2 separate regions of the Homo sapiens genome follow, and region 2 is linked to region 1. The links come from fine-mapping of genetic effects on gene expression. Tissue or cell type: whole blood. Region 1 holds a variant in brackets; the other region holds the start of a gene. All regions are shown on one strand. Distances are between the middles of the regions. Region 1 has its middle 15 kb from the start of SPDYE3. Region 2 holds the start of SPACDR (sperm acrosome developmental regulator).

The links. PIP is the estimated chance that this variant, and not a neighbour inherited with it, causes the effect. A credible set is the group of variants that fine-mapping cannot tell apart.
Region 2: SPACDR starts here. The variant in region 1 is the best candidate, but not a certain one, in a credible set for the expression of SPACDR in whole blood (TOPMed, PIP 0.86).

Annotation. Positions count from the first base shown.
Region 1 is chr7:100,289,888-100,295,256 of GRCh38, forward strand. No RefSeq gene overlaps it. Among named protein-coding and RNA genes, the nearest start is that of SPDYE3, 15 kb to the right of the region's middle. The variant G/A (reference allele first, on the strand shown) is at 3,410.
Region 2 is chr7:100,461,730-100,467,098 of GRCh38, forward strand. SPACDR (sperm acrosome developmental regulator) reads right to left here and starts at 2,531. Exons shown (of 3, transcript NM_001004323.3): 1 at 2,234-2,531; 2 at 1,634-1,957. The coding sequence starts at 2,296. It overlaps TSC22D4-C7ORF61 (TSC22D4-C7orf61 readthrough), which reads right to left. Exons shown (of 6, transcript NM_001395846.1): 5 at 1,634-1,957. TSC22D4 (TSC22 domain family member 4) reads right to left here. Exons shown (of 5, transcript NM_030935.5): 5 at 4,790-5,369. The coding sequence ends at 5,230.

The DNA of each region.
Region 1 (5,369 bases):
CGTTGCCCAGGCTGGAGTGCAGAGACACGATCTTGGCTCACTGCAAGCTCCGCCTCCTGGGATCACGCCATTCTCCTGCCTCAGCCTCCTGAATAGCTGGGACTACAGGCAGCTGCCAACACGTCCAGCTAATTTTTTGTATTTTTAGTAGAGACAGGGTTTCACCGTGTCAGCCAGGATGGTCTCGATCTCCTGACCTTGTGATCTGCATGCCTTGGCCTCCCAGAGTGCTGGGATTATAGGTGTGAGCCACCGCGCCCAGCCAATAACAGACTTATCTTTCTGCCTCTCACCTGACTCTGAGAGACTTTTGCTGCCATGATCTCTACATCTGAACTCCTCCCGAGAGCAGAGCTGCCCAGAAGGACCATCTGTGGTGATGGAAATGTTCTATGAATGCACCATCCAATATGCTGGCCACTTGAACACACGTGGTCCTGGCCCTTGTGGGCACTGGAATTGTGAGCAGCGTGACTGAGTATCTTAGTCTATTTGGGCTTCTGTTACAGAAAACCATAGGCTGGGTGGCTTAACAACACACATTTCTCTCTCACAATTCCAAGATTGAGGAACCAGCAGATTGGTGTCTGGTGAGGGCCCACTTCCTGGTTTGTGGATGGCTGTCTTCTCCCTGTATCCTCACATGATGGGGAGTGATATAGTTTGGCTCTGTGTCCCCCGCTTAAATCTCATGTCGAGACCAGGTGCAGTGGCTCACACCTGTAATCCCAGCACTTTGGGAGGCCGAGGTGGGCGGATCACCTGAGGCCAGGACTTTGAGATTAGCCTGGACCACATGGTGAAACCCTGTCTCCACTAAAAATACAAAATTAGCCGCGTGTAGTGGTGGGCGCCTGTAATCCCAGTTACTTAGGAGGCTGAGGCAGGAGAATCGCTTGAACCTGGGAGGCAGAAGTTGCAGTGAGCCCAGATGGCGCCACTACACTCCAGCCTGGGTGACAGAGTGAAACTGTGTCTCAAAAAAAAACAAAAAAAGAAAAAAAAAGAGGTTTCATGTCAAATTGTAATCCCCAGTGTTGGAGGTGGGGCCTGGTAGGAGGTGATTAAATCATGGGGTGGATTTCTCATGAATGGGCTGGCACCATCCCCTCCATGCTGTTTTCATGGTAGGTTATCATGAGCTCTGCTTGTTTAAAAGTGAGTAGCACCTCCCCACCTCTCTCTCATCCTCTTGCTCTGACCATGTGAGATGTGCATGCTTCCCCTTTACCTTCCACCATGATTGTAAGTTTCCTGAGACCTCCCCAGAAGCTAAGCAGATGTCAGAATCATGAGTCCTGTACAGCCTGTGGAACGTGAGCCAATTAAAACTCTTTTCTTGGCTGGGTGTGGTGGCTCACACCTGTAATCCCAGCATTTTGGGAGGCCAAGGTGGGTGGATCACCTGAGGTCATGAGTTCGAGACCAGCCTGGGCAACATGGTGAAACCCCCGTCTCTACTAAAAATACAAAAATTTGCTGGACGTGGTGGCAGATGCCTGTAATCCAGCTACTCAGGAGGCTGAGGCAGGAGAATGGCTTGAACCCAGGAGGTGGAGGTGGCAGTGAGCCAAGATCGTGCCATTGCACTCTTGCCTGGGTGACGACAGTGAAACTCCATCTCCAAGAACAAAACAAAACACCCCTCTTTTCTTTATAAATTACCCAGTCTCAGGTTTTTCTTTATAGCAGTGCCAGAATGGACCAAGACAGGGAGAGAGGAAGCAAGCTCTGTGATGACTCTTCTCGAAAGGCTGCTAATCCCATCAAGTGAATTCCACCCTTATAACCTCATCTCAACGTGATCACCTCCCAAACTTCTTGCCTCCAAATACCATCACATTGGGAGTTAGGAGTTTGACATATGAATTTTGGAGAGTCCACAAACATTCTGCCTGTAACACTAGAAATGAAATTTTGATTTCATTTTATCTATTTGTTTGAGACAGAGTCTTGCTGTTGCCCAGGCTGCCAGTGCAGTGGCGTGATCTCGGCTCACTGCAACCTCCACCTCCCAGGTTCAAATGATTCTCCTGACTCAGCCTCCTGAATAGTTGGGACTATAGGCACCCACCACCATGCCTGGCTAATGTTTTTTGTATTTTTAGTAGAGACAAGGTTTCACCATGTTGGCCAGCCTGGTCTTGAACTCCTGACCTCAAGTGATCCTCCCACCTCGGCCTCCCAAAGTGCTGGGATTACAGGGTGAGCCAGCGAACTTGGCCTTCCTTTAATTTTAATCAATTTAAATGTAAAGAGCTGCATGTAGCTAGGAGCTACTGAATTGGACAGCACAGCCTTAAGGAGAGTGGAAATCAGCTGAATCCAGTTGAAACAGGAGTTAAATCAGTTGGAGCCAGCCAACATTGGATGACCTTGGCTGAAACCACCTGAAACTGGTTGAAAGGAGCCACAAACTGTTCACAACCAGCTGAAGCTGAATTAACCTGGCTGAAACTGGATGAAGTCATTTGAAACCAGCTGAAACTGGATCAAACCAGCTGGCAGTGGTTGAAACCAGATGAAATCATTTAAGTAGGGTTTGTCATATTATTTTGCTTCTTGATGAACTAGTCCTGGGTTTTTTTTGTTTGTTTGTTTTTTGTTTTTTTTTTGAGAGAGAGTCTTGCTGTGTCGCTCAGGCTGGAGTGCAGTGGTGAGATTTCAGCTCACTGCAACCTTCTCCTCCAGGATTAAAGTGATCTTCCTGCCTCAGCCTCCTGAGTAGCTGGGATTACAGGAGTGCACCACCACTCCCGACTAATTTTTTTATTTTTAGTAGAGACAGGGTTTCATCATGCTGGCCAGGTTGGTCTCAAGCTCCTGACCTCAGGTGATCCACCATCTTGGCCTCCCAAAGTTCTGGTATTACAGGCATGAGCCCTGGTGCCCAGCAGCATAAACATTTAGTTTTATTCTAACAAGGTAGCTTGTACATTTTAAGATATAAAACTGAACATCTTTTTTCCTCTCCAGAGAAACATAAGGAAAACCAAGGAACTTTTTACAACAAACATTTTTAAACATTTACAAAAGTAGACAGAAGAGTACAGTGAACCCCTGTGGACCCACTGCCCAGCTTAAATAGCAATCAGGATTTTGCCAATGTGCTCCAAACTATCCTCCCCTTCCCCTCTTTTTCTTGGCTGGGATGTTTTAAAGCAAATCCTAGATATGTAGTAAAAAGAAAATGTAAAAGTAAAACAGAACAAAAATTACAATGCAGAATACCATTTCCAAATAAGATCTGGCCAGGCGCGGTGGCTCACGCCTGTAATCCCAGCACTTTGGGAGGCTGAGGCGGGCAGATCACATGAGGTCAGGAGTTCAAGACCAGCCTGGCCAACACGGCGAAATGCCGTCTCTATTAAAAATACAAAAATTAGGCCAGGCGCGGTGGCTCACACCT[G/A]TAATCCCAGCACTTTGGGAGGCCAAGGCGGGCGGATCATGAGGTCAGGAGATTGAGACCATCTTGGCTAACATGGTGAAACCCCATCTCTACTAAAAATACAAAAATTAGCCGGGTGTGGTGGCAGGCGCCTGTAGTCCCAGCTACTCGGGAGGCTGAGGCAGGAGAATGGCGTGAACCCGGGAGGCGGAGCTTGCAGTGAGCTGAGATCGTGCCACTGCACTCCAGCCTGGGCGACAGAGCGAGACTCAATCTTAAAAAACAACAACAACAACAAAACCCAAAAATTAGTCGAGCATGGTGGCATGCACCTGTACTCTCAGCTACTTGGGAGGCCGAGGCACGAGAATCACTTGAACCTGGGAGGTGGAGGTTATAGTGAGCCGAGATCGCACCACTGCACTCCAGCCTGGGCAACACAGCGAGACTCTATCTCAAAAAAAAAAAAAAATCTGTTAGGCTGAGGCTGGGTGCAGTGGCTCATGCCTGTAATTGCAGCACTTTGGGAGGCTGAAGCAGGAGGAACACTTGAGCCCAGGAGCTTGAGATCAGCCTGGGCAATGGAGCAAGATCCCCCAACTCTACAAAAATATAGAAGCCAGGCTTGGACCAGGTACATGCCTGTGGTCCCAGCTACTTGGAAGGCTGAAGCAGGAGGATCATGTGAGCCCAGGAGCTTGAAACCAGCCTGGGCAGTATCAGAGACCCCATCTCTACAAAAAATTTCAAAATTTAGCCTGGCATTGTGATGTGCACCTATGGTTCCAGCTACTTGGGAGGCTGAGACTGGAGGATCATTTGAGCCCAGGAGTTTAAGACTGCAGTGAGCTATGATGGCACCACTCAACTCCAGCCTGGCCGAGCAACAGAGTGAGACTCTGCCTCTAAAAAATAAATAAATAACAAAAACTAGGTGTAGTGTGTAGTGGGTCATGCCTATAATTCCAGCACTTTGGGAGGCTGAGGTGGGAGGCTAGATTGAGCCTAGGAGTTTAAGACCAGCCTGGGCAACATGGCAAAACTTGTCCCTAAAAAAAATACAAAATTTAGCCAGGCATGGCAGTGCACGCCTGTGGTCCCAGCTACTTGGGAGGCTGAGGCAGGAGGATCATCTGAGCCCAGGAGTTCGAGACTGCAGTGAGCTGTGATTGTGCCACCACACTCCAGCCTGGGTGAAAGGGCAAAACCCTGCCTCAAAACAAACAAATATACAACAACAACAACAACAAAAACCCTCAAACAAGATCCTTTATGTTCTTCAGTTTCTCCATCAAGCAGCAGGGCCCCAGGTAGCATTAGAAGTGGATTTTCTTTTTTTTTTTTTTGAGACGGAGTCTCGCTCTGTCGCCCAGGCTGGAGTGCAGTGGCACGACCTTGGCTCACTGCAAGCTCCGCCTCCTGGGTTCATGCCATTCTTCTGCCTCAGCCTCCCCAGTAGCTGGGACTACAGGCGCCCACCACTATGCCCAGCTAATTTTTTTTTATTATTTTAGTAGAGACGGGGTTTCACCGTGTTAGCCAGGATGGTCTCAATCTGCTGATCTTGATCTTGTGATCTGACTGCCTCAGCCTCCCAGAGTGCTGAGATTACAGGCGTGAGCCACCGCACCCGGCCAAGAGTGGATTTTATATCTAAAGCTACAGTTTAAACCACAAGGGCGTCTGCTAAATACCACCCAAGGAGAAGCTAAGTTGTCAAAATGCCCACTCAACCCTCCCAAACATCTCAAACCCACCCTTTTCTGATCTCTACTCCAACGTCTTTTGTTTTTGTTTTGTCTTACACCAGGAGAAGAGAGAGATTCGTGTTGACAAGTCCTTGTTGTCCAGACTCACACGGATACAGCTGTGGGGAAGGAAGGAAGGCTGCAATGCTGCTGTTTCCATGAACATGCCTGGCACCCTCCAGGTGTCAGCAGGGCCAGGGGAGTGGAGAACTGGTCTCCCTCTCCGCTCCTCT
Region 2 (5,369 bases), 170 kb after region 1:
CTGTAATCCCAGCACTTTGGGAGGCCGAGGCGGACAGATCACGAGGTCAGGAGATCAAGACCATCCTGGTTAACACAGTGAAACCCTGCCTCTACTAAAAATACAAAAAAAAATTTAGCTGGGCGTGGTGGCGGGTGCCTGTAGTCCGAGCTACTCAGGAGGCTGAGGCAGGAGAACGGTGTGAACCCAGGAGGCGGAGCTTGCAGCGAACCGAGATCCCGCCACTGCACTCCAACCTGGGCGACAGACTCCGTCTCAAAAAAAAAAAAAAAAAAAGGCCTCACCTGACTCCTTAGGTTTGGATAACATGCCTCTCTCCTGGGGTCCTACAGCCCGCTTGACAACGTCACACTCAACAATGTGTGGATACTGAACTAGCAATGCCTATTGTCTCATCTGTAGCCCTGCAAGTCTGCAAGTCTTGTTCATTGTTGTATCTTTAGTACATGGCATTTGGTGGACGCATAGGAAATATTTTTTATTTTTATTATTTATTTTTTTTGAGATGGAGTCTCGCTCTGTCGCCCAGGCTGGAGTGCAGTGGTGCTATCTCGGCTCACTGCAAGCTCCGCCTCCCGGGTTCATGCCATTCTCCTGCCTCAGCCTCCTGAGTAGCTGGGACTACAGCCACCTGCCACCTTGCCTGGCTAATTTTTTGTATTTTTAGTAGAGACGGGGTTTCACCATGTTAGCCAGTATGGTCTCAATCTCCTGACCTCGTGATCAGCCTGCCTCGGCCTCCCAAAGTGCTGGGATTACAGGCGTAAGCCACCGTGCCCGGCCAGAAATATATATATATTTTTAAGAGACAGAGTCTCGCTCTATTGCCCAGGCTGGAGTGCAGTGGCACAATCATAGCTCATTACAGCCTTGAACTCCTGGGCTCATGTGTTCCTCCTGCCTCAGCCTCCCAAGTAGCTGGAAATACAGGCACCACTAAGCCTGGCTAATTTTTAACTTTTTTGTAGAAATGGGGTCTCACTTTGTTGCCCAGGCTGGCCTTGAACTCCTGGCCTCAAGTGATCCTCCTGCCTCAGCCTCCCAAAGTGCTGGGACTATAGGCATGAGCCACCATGCCTGGCTAAGAAAGAAAACATTTGCCGGGCATGGTGGCTCATGCCTGTAATCCCAGCACTTTGGGAGGCTGAGGCAGGTGGATCACTTGAGGCCAGGAGTTCGAGACCAGCTTGGCCTCGTGGTGAAACCCTGTCTCTACTAAAAATGCAAAAATTAGCCAGGCGTGGGAGTCTGTAGTCCCCAGCTACTCGGGAGGCTGAGCCAGGAGAATAGCTTAAACCGGGGAGGTGGAGGTTGCAGTGAGCCGAGATCACGCTACTGCACTCCAGCCTGGGCGACAGAGGGAGACTCTGTCTCAGGGAGAAAAAAAAAAAAGAAAGGAAGAAAAAGAAAAAGAAAAAGATATTTTAAGAGACAGGGTCTTGCTATGTTGCCCAGGCTGGTCTCGAATTCCTGAGCTCAAGTGATCCTCCCATCTCAGCCTCCCAAAGTGCTGGGATTACAGGCGTGAGTCACTGCACCAGGCCAGGAAACAATTGTTGAACAAGTAATCAGAGGGAGGGGTGAGTCACTGGGGGCTGGGGAAAGAGGGAGGGGGTGTTAGGATGGTGCTGACCTTCCAGCTGCACATCTGCCAGCCGCTCTGCAGGGCAGAGACCATGAGCGTGGAGACAGACTTGACGGCCGTCCTCGGCAGCTGCAGTAGGGATTGGCCCTGTTGGCCCAGCTCCACCTCGGTCTCCTCTGTAGTCTTGGCCAACACGCAGGGATCTGCCAGCTCGGGGGACTCACCCAACTTGGGCTTAGCCTCTTTTGGGAGCTCGACCAACCTCAAAGTCTCAACCACCTGGAGAGTCTTCTCCATCTTCTTCAATGAGTGTTTCTTGGAGTCAGGGTGTCCTGAGATGGTTGGTTTAATTTTTTGCCTCCAGAAGAAAACCTGAGAACCAAGACACAGAGAGGAGAGACAGGAGAGAGGGGCAGGGCAGAGACAACACCATCCACAGAAAAGAAGGCACAAAAGGGATGGAGCAGTGAGTTTCCTGGCCTCTCTTCCTTCTCCTCCAGCCCCTCCCCAGCTGTCCTTTCCTTCCTCCCCACTCCATCTTGTTTGGCCACAGGCCAGGAAGGGAGGGAACCCACGCAGTAAGGGGCTGCTGCGACCCATGCCCTCATCCCAGCGCATCATGAGGACAGAGTGGTCTCAGAAACTCACCCAGGAAATAATCCTTTGCCAAGCCCGTCTAACCCATCGGAAGAACTTCATGACCACAACCATCTCTCTTGATGGGAAAAACACAGAAGAAAGGGCAGAGCTAGCATTTGGTACGGTGGGGGTGGCGGGTGGGGGATGGGGTGGGCTGTGGGCCGGTGACCACCTCTTGAGGGGTCTCCTGTGAGCTTCAAGCACAGCAGTAAAGAAAGAAGTAGGAAATCCTGGGGGAAGCCCCTCCTGGCAATGAATCCCAGACCTTTTCTCCCCTCCCTGGGACAGGGAGAGGAGTCGAAGTAGGTGAGAACCTACAGTGAGGGAGAGTTCTAGACCATTGTGAGGCTGCCTGGCCCCGACCCCAACCCCCGAGGCCCTGCCCAGACCCACAGAGTCCATCTCTTCCACCCTGGCTCTTCTTCGCTCAGATCCAGGGAAAATAAACTAACACGTAACAAACTAATAAGCACTGTTCCTGCATCACGTCCTGCAGTCCTTCACAGCAGCCCTTCAAGATAGGTATTATTGTTAGTGCCACTTCATCAAAGAGGAATCTGAAATTCAGGAAAGCTGAAGGGGGCCGGGCATGGTGGCTCATGCCTGTAATCCCAGTGTTTTGGGTGGCTGAGGCAGGAGGATCACTTGAGGCCAGGAGTTGAAGACCAGCCTGGGCAACATAGTGAGACTCCCCCCAACTCACTATGTTTAAATTTTTCAAAAAAAGAGTTTAAATCAGTTGGGAGTGGTGGTGTGTGCCTGCAGTCCCAGCTACTCAGGAGGCTGAGGCAGGAGGATTGCTTGCGCCCAGGAGGTGGAGGCTGCAGTGAGCCATGATTGTGCCACTGCACTCCAGCCTGGGCAACAGAATGAGACCCTGTCTCAAAAAAAAAAAAAAAAAAAAGGAAGGAAGGAAGGAAGGGAGAGGAGGGAGGAAGGAAGAGAGAGAGACAGAGAGGAGAGAAAGAAAGAGAGAGAGAGAGAGAAAGAAGAAAGAAGGAAAAGAACAAAAGAAAGAAAAGAAGGAAAGAAAAAAACAAAAAAGAAAGACAAAAAAGGAAGGAGGGAAGGAAGGAAGGAAGGAAGCAAGGAAGGAAAAAACTTAAGAGAGCCAGGTGTGGTAGCTCACACCTGTAATCCCAGAACTTTGGGACGCCAAGGTGGGAGGATTACTTGAAGCCAGCAGTTTGAGATCAGCCTGGGCCATATAGCGAGATGGTCTCTACCAAAAAATTTAGGCTAGGCGCAGTGGCTCATGCCTGTAATCCCAGCACTTTGGGAGGCTGAGGTAGGCAGATTACTTGAGTTCAGGAGTTTGAGACCAGCCTGACCAAAGTGGTGAAACCCCTTCTCTACTAAAAATACGAAAAAAAAAAAAAATTAGCTGGGTGTGGTGGTGCACACGTGTAGTTCCAGCTACTCAGGAGGCTGAGGCATGGAAATCGCTTGAACCTGAGAGGTGGAGGTTGCAGTAAGCTGAGATCTCACCACTGCATTCCAGACTGGGTGACAAGAGCGAAACTTCGACTCTAGCTGGGCATAGTGCCACATGCCTGTAGTCCCAGCTACTTAGGAGGCTGAAGTGGGAGGATCACTTGAGCCCAGGAGTTGAAGACTGCAGTGATCTATGATCACACCACTGCACTCCAGCCTGTGCAACATAGCAAGGCCCCATCTCTACAAAAATAAAGAAAATTAGCTGAACGTGGTGGCGCACACCTATAGTTCAGGGAGGCCAAGGCGGGAGGATCACTTGAGCCAGGAACGTGGAGGCTGCAGGGAGCTGTGATTGTGCCACTGCACTCTGGGCATCAGAGCAATACCCTGTCTCAAAAAAAGAAAGGAGAAATGAAAAAAAAAAAAAGAAAAACCAAAGAAGTTGCCCAAGGTTATGAACCTAGGGAAACCTAAGGAGGCAGAGAGTCAGGCACTCCAAGACAGGTCAGCCTCCTTGGAGGCTGCTGGGGCCAGGGGATCCCGGGGCTAGGGGCCTCCTGGGGCTACAGCTGCAGCTCTCGCCTCTTCCCCACTAGATGGGGTCCTTCTCCATTGCTGCTGACTCTTCCGCCTGGGACCGGAGCCCAGGCTGCCAGGGAGGGGCCAGCTCACCCACAGGGCCCGTCCTCAGCTGGCCGGGGGTGGGAGCCACGGCGGCTGGCCAGGCCTGGCAAGGGCACCGTGTGCCCGGGGAGCCTGGCCCACACCCAGCCCCGAGACAAGGGGCCCATTCAGGGCCCCCCGCCCCGCCCCCAAGCAGCCACCCGGATCCAGCCCGCAGAGGGGACACACTGGGAAGCCAGGGGTGGATCTTGGGCAACCACCAAAGACCTTATTGTTTCCCAGCCCCCCGCCCAGCACGTGGGCAGACGCCCCCCCACCCCCAATCCTCACTTGCCCCTTCCCAGGACCCGAACCGCTGGCTCCCTTCTCCAGCCTCTGTCTCAATTCCTCCGTCTCCCACGCTTTAAACCTCCCCAGTCTGCAAAAGATCTCAGGGGAGCCCTAAATGGCAGGCGCGACCCCTGAGTCTGAACACAAGCAACGAACGAGATGTCAACCTCCAAATTCAAGTTTCTTCAGAGTTTTTAATTATTATTATTATTTTAATAACAACCTGAATCCCAGAACTTCCAGATACTGTCCACACTCCCTCCCCTGGGCAGAGGAGAGGAGGCACCTCAAGGGAACAAGATGGGGGTGGGGTGTCTGCCGGGGAGCCTCCGACTCCCCCAAGCCGTCTACTGCTGGGGGGTCCCAGGAGGGAGGGTGGGGGTTGGTTCCCTCCCAGAGGGGGCTCCCTCTGACGCCCCGTCCTGAAGCCCTCCCTCCTCCATCAAGGCTGGGGATGATGAGGAGATGGGGCAGGGGCCGGGGGACCAGGCCATTACTGAGCCTTGAACTCCCACCCCGGGGACACGGGGACATTAAAGCTGCATAGGAAGAGGGGGCAGGCGGCTGACGCAAGGCCGGGCAGCCCCAAAGGCACATTGTAAGGGAAGGGAGGCTCAGACGGAGGGCCCATTGGGCGCAGGGGGCCCAAGCCGTGGGACCCCCGAGGAGGGCAGCTGAGCCAGCTGCTCCGGGCTGGCCAGGGCGCGCAGCAGCCCATTCTCCTGCTCCAGCGCAGCGTTCCGCTCCGCCAATT